3 linked regions of the Homo sapiens genome follow. The protein of the gene in region 2 purifies or fractionates together with the protein of the main gene of each other region. This does not show direct contact. Each region holds a gene or a part of one and is shown on either strand. Other genes may lie near its edges. The genes, in order: PTPRA, SP4 and VRK3.

Evidence for each region.
Region 1: the proteins of SP4 (region 2) and PTPRA purify together in Homo sapiens (affinity purification with mass spectrometry; 2 studies listed by BioGRID and IntAct, with this or other methods). This does not show direct contact.
Region 3: the proteins of SP4 (region 2) and VRK3 purify together in Homo sapiens (affinity purification with mass spectrometry; 2 studies listed by BioGRID and IntAct, with this or other methods). This does not show direct contact.

What each region holds. Positions count from the first base shown.
Region 1 is NC_000020.11:3,023,464-3,027,211, reverse strand, and holds part of PTPRA (receptor-type tyrosine-protein phosphatase alpha isoform 1 precursor), read right to left. Parts: intron 2,741-3,748; coding exon 2,591-2,740; intron 526-2,590; coding exon 432-525; intron 92-431; coding exon 15-91; intron 1-14. UniProt on the Homo sapiens protein: Tyrosine protein phosphatase which is involved in integrin-mediated focal adhesion formation.
Region 2 is NC_000007.14:21,426,295-21,430,042, reverse strand, and holds the start of SP4 (transcription factor Sp4), read right to left. Parts: upstream 1,961-3,748; 5' UTR 1,792-1,960; coding exon 1,785-1,791; intron 1,367-1,784; coding exon 1,251-1,366; exon of another isoform or gene 1,140-1,250; intron 755-1,139; coding exon 1-754. UniProt on the Homo sapiens protein: Binds to GT and GC boxes promoters elements. Probable transcriptional activator.
Region 3 is NC_000019.10:49,990,764-49,994,511, forward strand, and holds part of VRK3 (serine/threonine-protein kinase VRK3), read right to left. Parts: intron 2,190-3,748; coding exon 2,097-2,189; intron 1-2,096. UniProt on the Homo sapiens protein: Plays a role in the regulation of the cell cycle by phosphorylating the nuclear envelope protein barrier-to-autointegration factor/BAF that is required for disassembly and reassembly, respectively, of the nuclear envelope during mitosis.

The sequences.
Region 1 (3,748 bases), on a different chromosome or scaffold from region 2:
CACCCACCACTTACATCAATAAAGGATGCGTTCACATAGTCTGTATTCTCTTCGCCCCGCTTAACTGGAATGATCACTCTGTTGAATTCATCTGTAAGAAGAATAGCGGCTTATGGCTAGCCAATATCATTTGTCCTCTCCCTCTCCTTGCATTGCTCCCACCTCAGGCCCTGGGCAGACAGAATCCCAGCTGGGCAAGGACATGTCTGTTCCTAGCTCATTAGGGAGAAAGCCTTTGGCTTTTACGTTATTTCCAGAAGCCACTAAGGTGCAACAAAAGGCAACGCCATGTTGTTAAGTGGGTGCAACAAGAGGCAATGCCATGATTCTTGTCTATACGCCAATCATTAACTAGTACCTGAGAAATGGAAGGGGTGGAGGGAATTGAGGGATGGGGCAATAAGGCTTTGGAGTGGCGGGAGGGCTCTTACATGGAATGATCTGTAAAACACGGTTCTTCTTCATGTTGGCTGGAAGGTTTCCAGTCCGCATCTTGTCATTCTGGATTTTGATTGATGTTAACTTCTGAATTGGGAAGGGGAGGGGAAACATTACTGATCCCAGTAACTGAACTTGACAAGATTATGCCTGTCCCTTGGCCTGCACCTCCAGGCCACTCTGGCTCCATACTGCTCTTCTCACCAGGGCCCTGACCTCTGTTCCCATATGTTCAGCTGGAACCCTGAAGCCAAGAGACTGTTTGGGAAATGCTACCTTCCAGGCTCCTGTGGACTCTCTTGAGATTCTCCTGGCTTGGAATTTTGTGATCCTGGAGCAAGGGATTCCAGCATCGTAGGAGGGAGTGTGTCCACTCTGCAGTTCCACCCCCAGAGGCTGCCTAAGGCTCTTCAAAAAAACTTATTCAGAATTGCATCCTCCCTTCCCGATTGAGGCTCCTTCTTGACATTTGCTACTCAAAGTGTAGCCCATACACCAGCAGCGTTGGCTTCACCTTATTAGAAATGCAGAATCTCAAGCCGGGCGTGGTGGCTCATGCCTGTAATCCCAGCACTTTGGGAGGCCAAGGTGGGCAATCAACTGAGGTTAGGAGTTTGAGACCCGCATGGCCAACATGGTGAAACCCTGTCTCTACTAAAAATTAGCCGGGGGTAGTGGCACGTGCCTGTAGACCCAGCTACTTAGGAGGCTGAGACAGAAGAATCCCTTGAACCCGGGAGGCAGAGGTTGCAGTGAGCTGAGATCGCGCCATTGCACCCCAGCCCGGGTGACAAGAGTGAAACTCCATCTCAAAAAAAAAGAAAAGAAAAAAAGAAATGCAGAATCTCAAGCTCTAACTCATACCTGCTGAATCAGAACCTAATATCTTTTTTTTTTTTTTTTTTGAGACAGAGTCTTGCTCTGTCACCCAGGCTGGAGTGCAGTGGCACAATCTCAGCTCACTGCAATCTCTGCCTCCTGGGTTCAAGTGATTCTCCTGCCTCAGCCTCCCAAGTAGCTGGGATTACAGGCATGTGCCACCATGCCTGGCTAATTTTGTATTTTTAATAGAGACAGAGTTTCTCCGTGTTGGTCAGGCTGGTCTTGAACTCCTGAGCTCAGGTGATCTGCCTGACTTGGCCTCCCAAAGTGCTGGGATTACAGGCATTAGCCACCGTGCCTGGCAGAACCCACATCTTGACAGGATCCCAAAGAAATCTGTGCACATGCTATATTTGAGAAGAACTTCTCTAAGTGGTCCTCCCCACCCCAACCCAGAATCTCCTGCTTCTGAGAAAGCACTTTTTTTTTTTTTTTTTTTGAGATGGAGTCTCGCTCTGTCGCCCAGGCTGGAGTGCAGTGGCATGATTTCGGCTCACTGCAACCTCTGCCTTCCGGGTTCAAGCAATTCTCTCGCCTCAGCCTCCTGAGTAGCTGGGACTACAGGCATGTGCCATCATGCCTGGCTACTTTTTGTATTTTTAGTAGAGACGGGGTTTCACCATATTGGCCAGGCTGGTCTGGAACTCCTGACCTCATGATCCACCTGTCTCAGCCTCCCAAAGTGCTGTGATTACAGGCGTGAGCCACTGTGCCCAGCCTGGGAGAGCACTTTTACTGATGACAGTGTGACATATGCCTTAGGTGTGTTGAGAACCATTGTCTAGTGGCATATAGGAGCTATCAGTGATCTAAGGTCCAGAGGCCAAATCTGGCCTGCTGCCTGCTGCCTGCAAATAAAGTTTTATAAAACAGCCACACTCATTATATTTACCTATTGGTTATGGCTGCCTTTGTGTTACAAAGACAGCACTAAGTAGCTGGATAGAAACCATGTGGGCTGCAAAGCCTAAAATATTTATTATCTGGCTCTTACAGAAAAAACTGCTCTTGCTGTGTATCATAATCACCTCGGAGGGCTAGGGGCCTTAAAATACTGTTGCCTGCTTCTCCCTACTCTAACACAACCAAAGTGATTCCAACGTGCAGGATGAGTTGAGAGTTACCAGAGTACGAGGAAAGGACCATCTCCTTAACCACTGGCATGCCTCACAAGGGGATTTACTGTTGGCAAATGCACAGTCAGGCATCCCATGTTCCCCAGATTACAAGGATCCTTCAATCTGAAGGAGGTTATCCAGCTCCAACTCACCTTAAACTCCTCCTCTAATCCATTGTTGCTGGTCCCTGGGATTTTGTTGTAAATTTTCTGCAGGTGGGTTTCTAGAGAGGTCACTTCCAGTTCTGTATCTCCATAGAGATAATGCTCCAGAAGGGCTTGGTATATGAAGACATACTGCATCTGAAACATGAATGACACAGAAGTTCTTGGTTACATACAACATAGTTCTCATGCCAGATCACCTGTTCCCACCCCCACTTCACTCCAGTCCATTTCTCCTTTGATCCTAGCAGGAATAAAAGGACTCCCTCTTATTATCCCAATTTAGTGAAGTGGGACTTGAAATGCAGGAGTCCCTGTGGGGGTGCTTTACTTGGGAAGAAGGGTCCAGGTCTATCTTGGGGGTGGTGGACGCCTGGAGAGAAGGACAAACTCAATTCCTGTTCATTCTGAGAGTGCAGATTTAATAGTCTGAAGGGGCTGTCAGAAACTGGAGACACCCAAAGCCCGTGATAGTCTGGTCCCTGCCTCCCTCCTGGTGCTATGCCCCAACTGCAGAGCCAATCTCACTGCTGCTCCCAGATGTGGCCGAGCTTCATCATGTCTCTGGGCACTGGCTCTTTCAGCTGCCTGTTCCCTAATCTTTGAAGTCCAGTAACCTGTCATCTGCCTTCCTGACTCTCCCAGGCATGAAACCACAACCTCCTCTGTGCTCGATTTCTTTGAATACATAATTTATAAGAGCCCTTCATCACATGAAAGGGGCTAGCCCCTCCACACCTGTGGATGTTTCTCGTCAGGTGGGACGAGAGACTGAGGAAAGAAAGAAGACACAGAGACAAAGTATAGAGAAAGAACAGTGGGCCAGGGGACCGGTGCTCAGCATACGGAGGACATGCGCCAGCACTCGTCTCTGAGTTCCCTCAGTATTTATTGATCACTATCTCTACTATCTCGGCTAAGGGGATGTGGCAGGACTATAGGGTAATGGTGGGCAGAGGGTCAGCAGAAAAACATGTGAGCAAAGGACTCTGTGTCATAAATAAGTTTAAGGAAAGGTGCTGTGCCTTGATGTGCACGTAGGCCAGATTTATGTCTGACTTTACACAAACATCTCAGTGCAGTAAAGAGCAGTATTGCCGCCAGCATATCTCACCTCCAGCCATAAGGCGGTTTTCTCCTATCTCA
Region 2 (3,748 bases):
CACTATCAGCAGTAGCAGCAGGCTGGCCAACCTGCCCAGTCCCTCCTCCGGCAGCCACGTTGTTTATCACTGGCAAAGCTAGAGTCACTCCTCCAATGTTAATTGGTAGGGTTGTTACAACTTGAGCCTGAGTACCAGGAAGAGTCTGTAACTGCAGTGGTATTGAAACACCAGGTCTAATTTGGACCGGAACTGTCTGATTTGCCAGGTTTTGAGCAAGAATATTCCCAGAAGCTGTCCTGTTAGCAGCTGTGAGTATAGCTTGATTATTACCTGCAGAAATGAGCTGAATTTGACCCTGCAAATCCTGTAGAGATGAACTACTAGTTGGATTGATTTGAATTTGTTGACCTTCCACTGTCTGAAGTTGTGGAATTACTTGGTACTGTACACTACCACTTGGATTTTGTACTTGTATGACTTGAAATTGACCAGGGGTGGAAGAATTACCTGATTTAGTTTTTGTAGGAGATGCACTCCCGTTATTACTGCTGGAAGAACTAGACGAACTAGAGGCTGGTTGAGAAACGTTATTCTCTTTTGAAGCAGGAGGAGTGGAGGCAACAAGTTGCCAAGCGTTTCCAGCAAGTTGCGTTGTTACCAGTTCTAGCTGTTGTGGTTGATTTTGAAGTTGCACCAATCCTTGACTTGGATCTATAATAATTTGTTGTTGTCCAGTTGCTTGATTTTCACCAGGAGTCCCTATTTTGCTGCAAGTAGCTGCCAGTAAAGCCAGAGGAGAGGGCTGAGAGTCCTACCCAAAATGGGACGGTAAAGGAGAGGGGGGGGGGAAAAAAAGTGGGCGGATTTAGTGGAGGCCAGTAGTTGCCAGGGGGTTACTTATTTTGACAGCTCTACATAACAATTTAGGAAGCAGCAGAAATCAAAAAGAAATACGAACAAAAGTAGATAAGAACTATATGAATAAGGAAGCAAGTCCTATAATATCAAGTTTAAATAAAAGGAAATTTCTTTACAACTTTGTAAAGTGTTATGTTCCTAAACTCAAAATGCCCTTGGGAACACACACACCGTTTTCTTATAGTCTGAATTCCTGATGTAATTTTAAACAGCGTTATACCCTCAAAGAGGTGAAAACTTGATGAATTTACAATTTAAGTTCCACACTCTCAGAAAGATGCTTTGAGTGGATAAACATTTTATTCTGTTACTTCTGGACATTCAAAGGGCATAACTCCCTCTCTCTCCTAATGTGTCGTGATGAATTTTTTTAATTTGTTTGCTTTTACCTGGGAGCCTGAGGTTTTGGGTTTTTTATTGTTATTCTCTGGCTCAGAGGTTTTCCCTCCTTCTGTAGCCATCGCCGCTGCCGCTGCCGCCTCCTCCTCCTCCTCCTTCTTCTGATCTGCAACAAACCCCCCCACCACACACACACGACAACAGGTTATTAGGATTATTATTATTCGTCTTCTTCCTCTCCTCTTCTCCCCCCTCCCCCCGAACATTAATCTCCATAAACCCGCGATCCACGCACACCGGCAGGGGGTGGGGGAGAAGGAGGGAAGGGAGGAGGGGGATATCACAAAACGTGGTTTGAAACCCGACCCATCGGCTCCAGAGCAACACCCAGAAGGAGGTTGTTCTCTCTCAGACATTAAGACAAAACACAACCCTCCTTCCCTCCCCGATTCCCTCCCGCCCTCTCCTCCTCCCCTTAAAGCATCTCAGCGGCCCCGGGGGAGGGGGGAGAACCGAGCAGGGTCTGGGGAGGGAGGGAGAGAGGGAGGCGGCGAAGGAGACTGAGGGGGGTGGAGAATACGTACCGCTCATCCCGCATTAACAGGACAAACCCTCAGACGGAGACACTGGGATAGAGGTGGGTGGGGGTGGGGGCGAGGCGGGAGGAGAGGCCGGTCCCGCCCGCCCGCGGTGGCTCGGAGGAGGCTGTAGCTGGCACAGGCTCTGCCTCTTTTTCCGCGAATGGCCGCCGCTGGGCTGTGGCGTAGCAGCTCCTCTCTCCGCCCGAGCCCGGCTGACTCGCCCTTGATTGACAGCGGCGGCGCGCGGCGCGGGCGGCGGCGCGGGTCGGGGGCGGGGCCAGGGCGGTGCGAGCCTGGCCGACTCCCCACCCCCCTCGGCCTCTCTCCGCCGGAGCCTCCGACTCTCCACCCCTTCCCCCAGCGGATTGGCCGCCGACCTGCCGGGGGCCGGGGCGCTGGGGCCGCCTCCTCTCCACCCCCTTTCTCGGGGTTATTCCTTTAGCAGCTCTTCTCCTCCTCCCTGGCTCCTCTGGCGCTCTTTCTCTCGGCGTTCTAGCTCAGGAGCGCTGCCGGTAGGCCCTCCATACAGCCAAACTTGTTGTCTCAGGATATCCCGCCCCCTACTCATTTCCCAGCGCCCTCCACTCAAAAACCCCCTCCAGCAATCCCTCCAATTGCCACTAAAGAAAAAAGTAGGGCCCTTGATCCAGGCAAGCGAGAGCGGCGGACGTGGGCGCGCGCGGACCACCAACAGGTCGGCGCGCTGGGTGAACTGCCCGCTGCCCCCGCGCAGGGAGCATGGCTTTCCTGAGGCGCATCCGGACCCGGGCGCCCTTTTTCCCTGGCTCTGTCTCCATTGGCTGAGCCCAGGGTGACGCGCGCTGAGTGGTGGGAGAAAGGGGGTGGGGCACTACCGCGAAGGCTGTCGGTACTCGTAGTTTCCGGCGGTCGCGGTGCCTTCTTCGAGGCACCGCCTCTCTCCCGCCCCCGACCGAGGCCTGGCTGCCGAGCGGAAAGCTGCCCGAGGGGGCGGTGGCGGCAGGGCGTGGCCGGGGCCGAGTGGGAGTTGAACTGAGCGAGGAGGAGGGGGAATGGGTGTTGTTTGCCTGGGCCTATCCGCCGCGCGGGGCTGCCCAAACCACCTCTGCCGCCGCCTCCTCGGCTCCAAGCCGCTCCCCGCGGGGCGAGCTCACACCCGGAGCGCTCGGCGATTGAGCGGGCGGCGGCGTGGGGAGGCGGGGTTTGCTGTCCTCGGGGTTTGAATGAACCCGGCTTCTTGAAGCAGCGCCCTCGCCTTGCCTTTCTTTGCTCACCTTCCCCTCAGGCCCCCTGCTTTGAGTCCGAGGCCTGTTTTCTCACGGAGAAGGATCTTCCATTTTTATTTGTTGTCTCTCTGGCTGGCAGCTGGTGCAGAGCAGTGACCCGCCTTCTAAGAAGGGTTGCATCGCGTTTTGCCTAAAAGCCTAAGTGGTTGGCGGAGTTCTAAGCCTTATCTGACAAGAGTCTCCGGGCGAAGAAAAGCCCAGCTCCATAAGGGTCAGCCCCGCTTACGGTGTAGCGTAAGCAAGCGTAAGGGCAAGTGGAATTAACATCTGGCTGCACAAAGCATCTTACTGTCAAATGCACTTGAGCAGTGTCCTGCCTCAGCTTTCCTACAAAGTCCTGAAGTCAGGATGATGCCATGGAACGTAATCAGCGCCTGATTAACTGTACCAAAGGTGGAAGTGACCCCACATGTAAATACTGGCCTTGGGAACAAGGCATGCTTACACCCCAGGCTCAAAGCCATTGTCTCACTTCTTACCTGGGCTTCACACTCAGCCTTGGGCATTTTTGTCTCCTGCCTGAGGCCTGACATGTTGCAATGGTGAGGAGGTCCCAGATGCTGAACTTGACTGGCATTTCCTTTGCTTGTTAAGGTAATTGCAAAATCAGCTGATGACAAAGCCATGCAGCAAGACAAAGCAATTCGAATAAAGAATTACATGGTATTGTCTACCCCATCTTATACAATGAGCCAGAGATCC
Region 3 (3,748 bases), on a different chromosome or scaffold from region 2:
GGTGTTCATTAAAAAAATAATTTTTTTTTTTTAAGTTTTGAGACAGGGTCTCACTGGGTCACGCAGGTTGGAGTGCAGTGGTATGATCATGGCTCACTGCAGTCTCCATCTCCTGGGCTCAGGTGATCCTTCTACCTCAGCCTCCTGAGTAGCTGGAACCACATGTGTATGCCACTACACCTGGATAGGTTATTATTTTTTATTTTGTACAGATGAGGTTCCCTATGTTTCCCAGGCTGGTCTCGAACTCCTGGGCTCAAGCGATCCGATCCTTCCACTTTGGCCTCCTAAACTGCTGGAATTACAGGTGTGAGCCACTGGGCCTGGCCATGATGGTCATTTTTATGTGGCAACTTGACTGGGCCATGGGGTGCCCAGACATTTGGCCAAACCCTATTCTGGGAGTGTCTATGAGGGTGTTCTGGATGAGATGAACATTGGGGTTTGTAGACTGAGCAAGGCAGATTATTCTCCTTAATGTGGGTGGGTCTCATTCAATCAACTCAAGATGTGAATAGAATAAAAAGCTAAGTAACCAGAAGCTCCTCCTCCCTGACTGCTTGAGCTAGAACATTGGTCTTTTCCTGCCTTTGGACTTGAACTGAAACAACCCCTCTTCTTGGGTCTCAGGCCTGCTGGCCTTTGGATTGGAACTTACATCATTGGCTCTCCTAGGTCTCCAGATTGCAAACTGAAGAATCTCAGGACTGCTTAGCTTCCATTATCAATAAGCCAATTCCTTATAATAAATCTCTACACACACACACACACGCACACACACACACACCCTGCCAGTTCTGTTTCTCTGAAGATTCCTAATGCTTAGTTCCAGGATTTTCATCTGGGATTGCTTTTCCCCAGTTCTCAGTCCACGCAGTTCAGGTCTGTTTCTGCCAGGGCTGCTAAGCTTTGGGGATTTAAGCCTAATTTGCTGGTGGCAATTTTGTCACCATGAGGAATAAGTCTGCCTGACAACGAGCAGTGCAGAAGCATGAGGAGTCCAGAGATGGGAGAGCCGGCTTCCCAATGACAGGGTTTGAGCTCCTGGATCCTGCCGTGCCCGAGACAGTGCAGTCCTGGATTGCTCCATTCTGTGGACTAATACATTGCACACAGTCCCTTTTGGTTTTTGGCTTAAGGCATGTAAAGTTGGGTTTCTGTCATTTGTAATTGTAAGAGCAATTAGAAGTTACTTTAAAATACTATTTAATCAGTATCCCGCTTAAGGTGTTTCCCATTTCACTATTACAATCAGTGTTGCCAGGAACATCTTGTACACTTATCTTTGAACAATCCTATGAATATATAGGTAGGACACCTTCCTAAGACAGGAACTTGTGGATCAAAAAACAGGTGCATTTTGGCCGGGCACGGTGGCTCAGGCCTGTAATCCCAGCACCTTGGGAGGCAAAGGCGGGCGGATCACCTGAGGTCAGGAGTTCGAGGCCAGCCTGACCAACATGGAGAAACCCCATCTCTACTAAAAATACAAAATTAGCTAGGCGTAGTGGCGCATGCCTGTAATCCCAGCTACTCAGGAGGCTGACAGAGAATCGCTTGAACCCAGGAGGTGGAGGTTGTGATGAGCCGAGATCGTGCCATTGCACTCCAGCCTGGGCAACAAGAGTGAAACTCCATCTCAAAACAAAATCAAAGACAAAAAACAGGTGCATTTAAAACTGTGACTGTTATTGCCTTCCAAAAGGGTTTCCCAATTCATGCTTCCAACAGTATATGAAGAATTCCTACTTCCTTATATCCTTATCAGCAATGAATATTATTATCATGCTTAATTTTGTTCAAAGGGTGAAAATAGTATCTTGTTTTAAGTTACATCTCTATAGTTACTAAGGAGGTTGAATATCTTTTCATATTATTTAGCTAGCCTGTGGATTTCTTTTTTTAAGAATTGCTTTTCTTATCCTTTGTCCATTTTCCTACTAAGTTGCTTATCTTATTTATTTGAAGGAGCTCTTTATATATGATGGACAGCAATCCTTTGTCTGTAATAAGCACTATGAAATAAATAGAGATTTGGAGACAGATGGGAACCTGAGCCCAGAGATCTTCCAGAGTGGGCAGGAGCTGGCTCTTACCTGACTCTGGTCCTCTGGATCCACAAAGATATTTTCAGCTGTCACATTTCCATGAACATACTCATTCTCATGGAGGAACTCCAGGGCATCCAGCTGGGGGAAGAAGCAAGTCAGTGTCTGCATGAGCAGTACGACTAACACAGAGAGGCTATGGTGCAGACCAGGAGGGAGCCCCACTATTAAGGCCTGGGGTTGTCCGACACTGTGACTGGGGGTTAAACCTGACTAAATCCGGGGTAGCATGAGGAGCCCGCTGTGACAGCACATTGAGCACGCCTCTAATCAGGCTCTCAGGAAGCTCATCAATTGAGCTAAAGCGTGGCTTCCTATCTACTCCTGTATTTCTCTCTTAGCTGATGACAAACTCAGCAGAGGGAAAAGGGGTTAATGTCTCTCTGCAAAAATGACTCAGCACCTGTGGATATCAAAGAGCTCTTCTCACCTGTCCTAGAGAGCAGAAATAAATCTTGTTAAGCAATTTATATCTTGATCTCCAGCTCCAGCTGTCCCTATGAGCTCCAGACTCTTTTTTTGCTGTGTGTATATATATATTTTTGAGACAGGGTCTTACTCCTGTTGCCCAGGCTGGAGTGCAGTGGTACAATCACTGCTCACTGTAGCCTTGATTTCCCAAGCTCAGGTGATCCTCCCACCTCAGCCTCACAAGTAGCTGGGACTACAGGTGGGTGCCACCACACCCGGCTAATTTTTTGTATTTTTATTAGAGAGGGCATTTTGCCATGTTGCCCAGGCTGGTCTTGAACTCCTGAGCTCAAGTGATCCACCTGCCTCGTCCTCCCAAAGTGCTGGGATTACTGGCATGAGCTGCTGCGCCCGGCCAATTCTTTGATTGTGTCTGCTGCCTGAGTGTCAGCTACATTCTGATCATATCCCCAACCCTCTTTGACCCCAGGGCTCTACTGTCCACCAAATTCTGCTCGTTCTCCTCCTATAGACTCTCCACCCCCGGGGCCCGGGACCCTCCTCAGCCTTGTCCTCTCCCACATGGACCCTCACTCAGATTCTTCTCCCCATTCCAGTCCCTCCCCATATGGCCCCTGAGGGCCTTTCTGTACCCAGAGCTGACCCCGCCCTCCCCTAATCCCAGCACTCTTGTGGCTCTCCAGTGCCCTCAAGACAGATCCCAGCCCCTCAGCCTGCTGTGCGAGGCCCCGTGTGATGTGGTCACCGCTGACCTCTCCAGACCAACTCCATCTCTTCCGCACTGCAGTGCCATACTGCAGATACTGAACATAAAGACCTTAGGACTCAGCATGTCGCTCCCTTGGTACGTCCATCCCTCCAGCGATGCAAACTGGGCCCTCTTACTCTCAATCACAGCAGGGGCCGCTTCTATTCAGAGCACTTGTCATAGTTTGTGCAACTGTTTGATTCACTATTGGCCCCTCCCACTAGACTGTGAGCTCTAAGACACAGAAACCATGTTTATGCTGCTCCCTGCTCTGCACCCAGCCCCGGGGACAGCGTCTGGCACCCAGCAAGTGCCTGATGAATATTTAATGGGGATGAATGAATGAACTAATGAACAAATGCCATATGCTCTCCCTTCCACACAAGCCTTGCCCCAGCTGTATCCTTGGCCGGACCATCCTCTCCTCATCTATCCTCTTCCTCTTCCACCCAGCACTTTG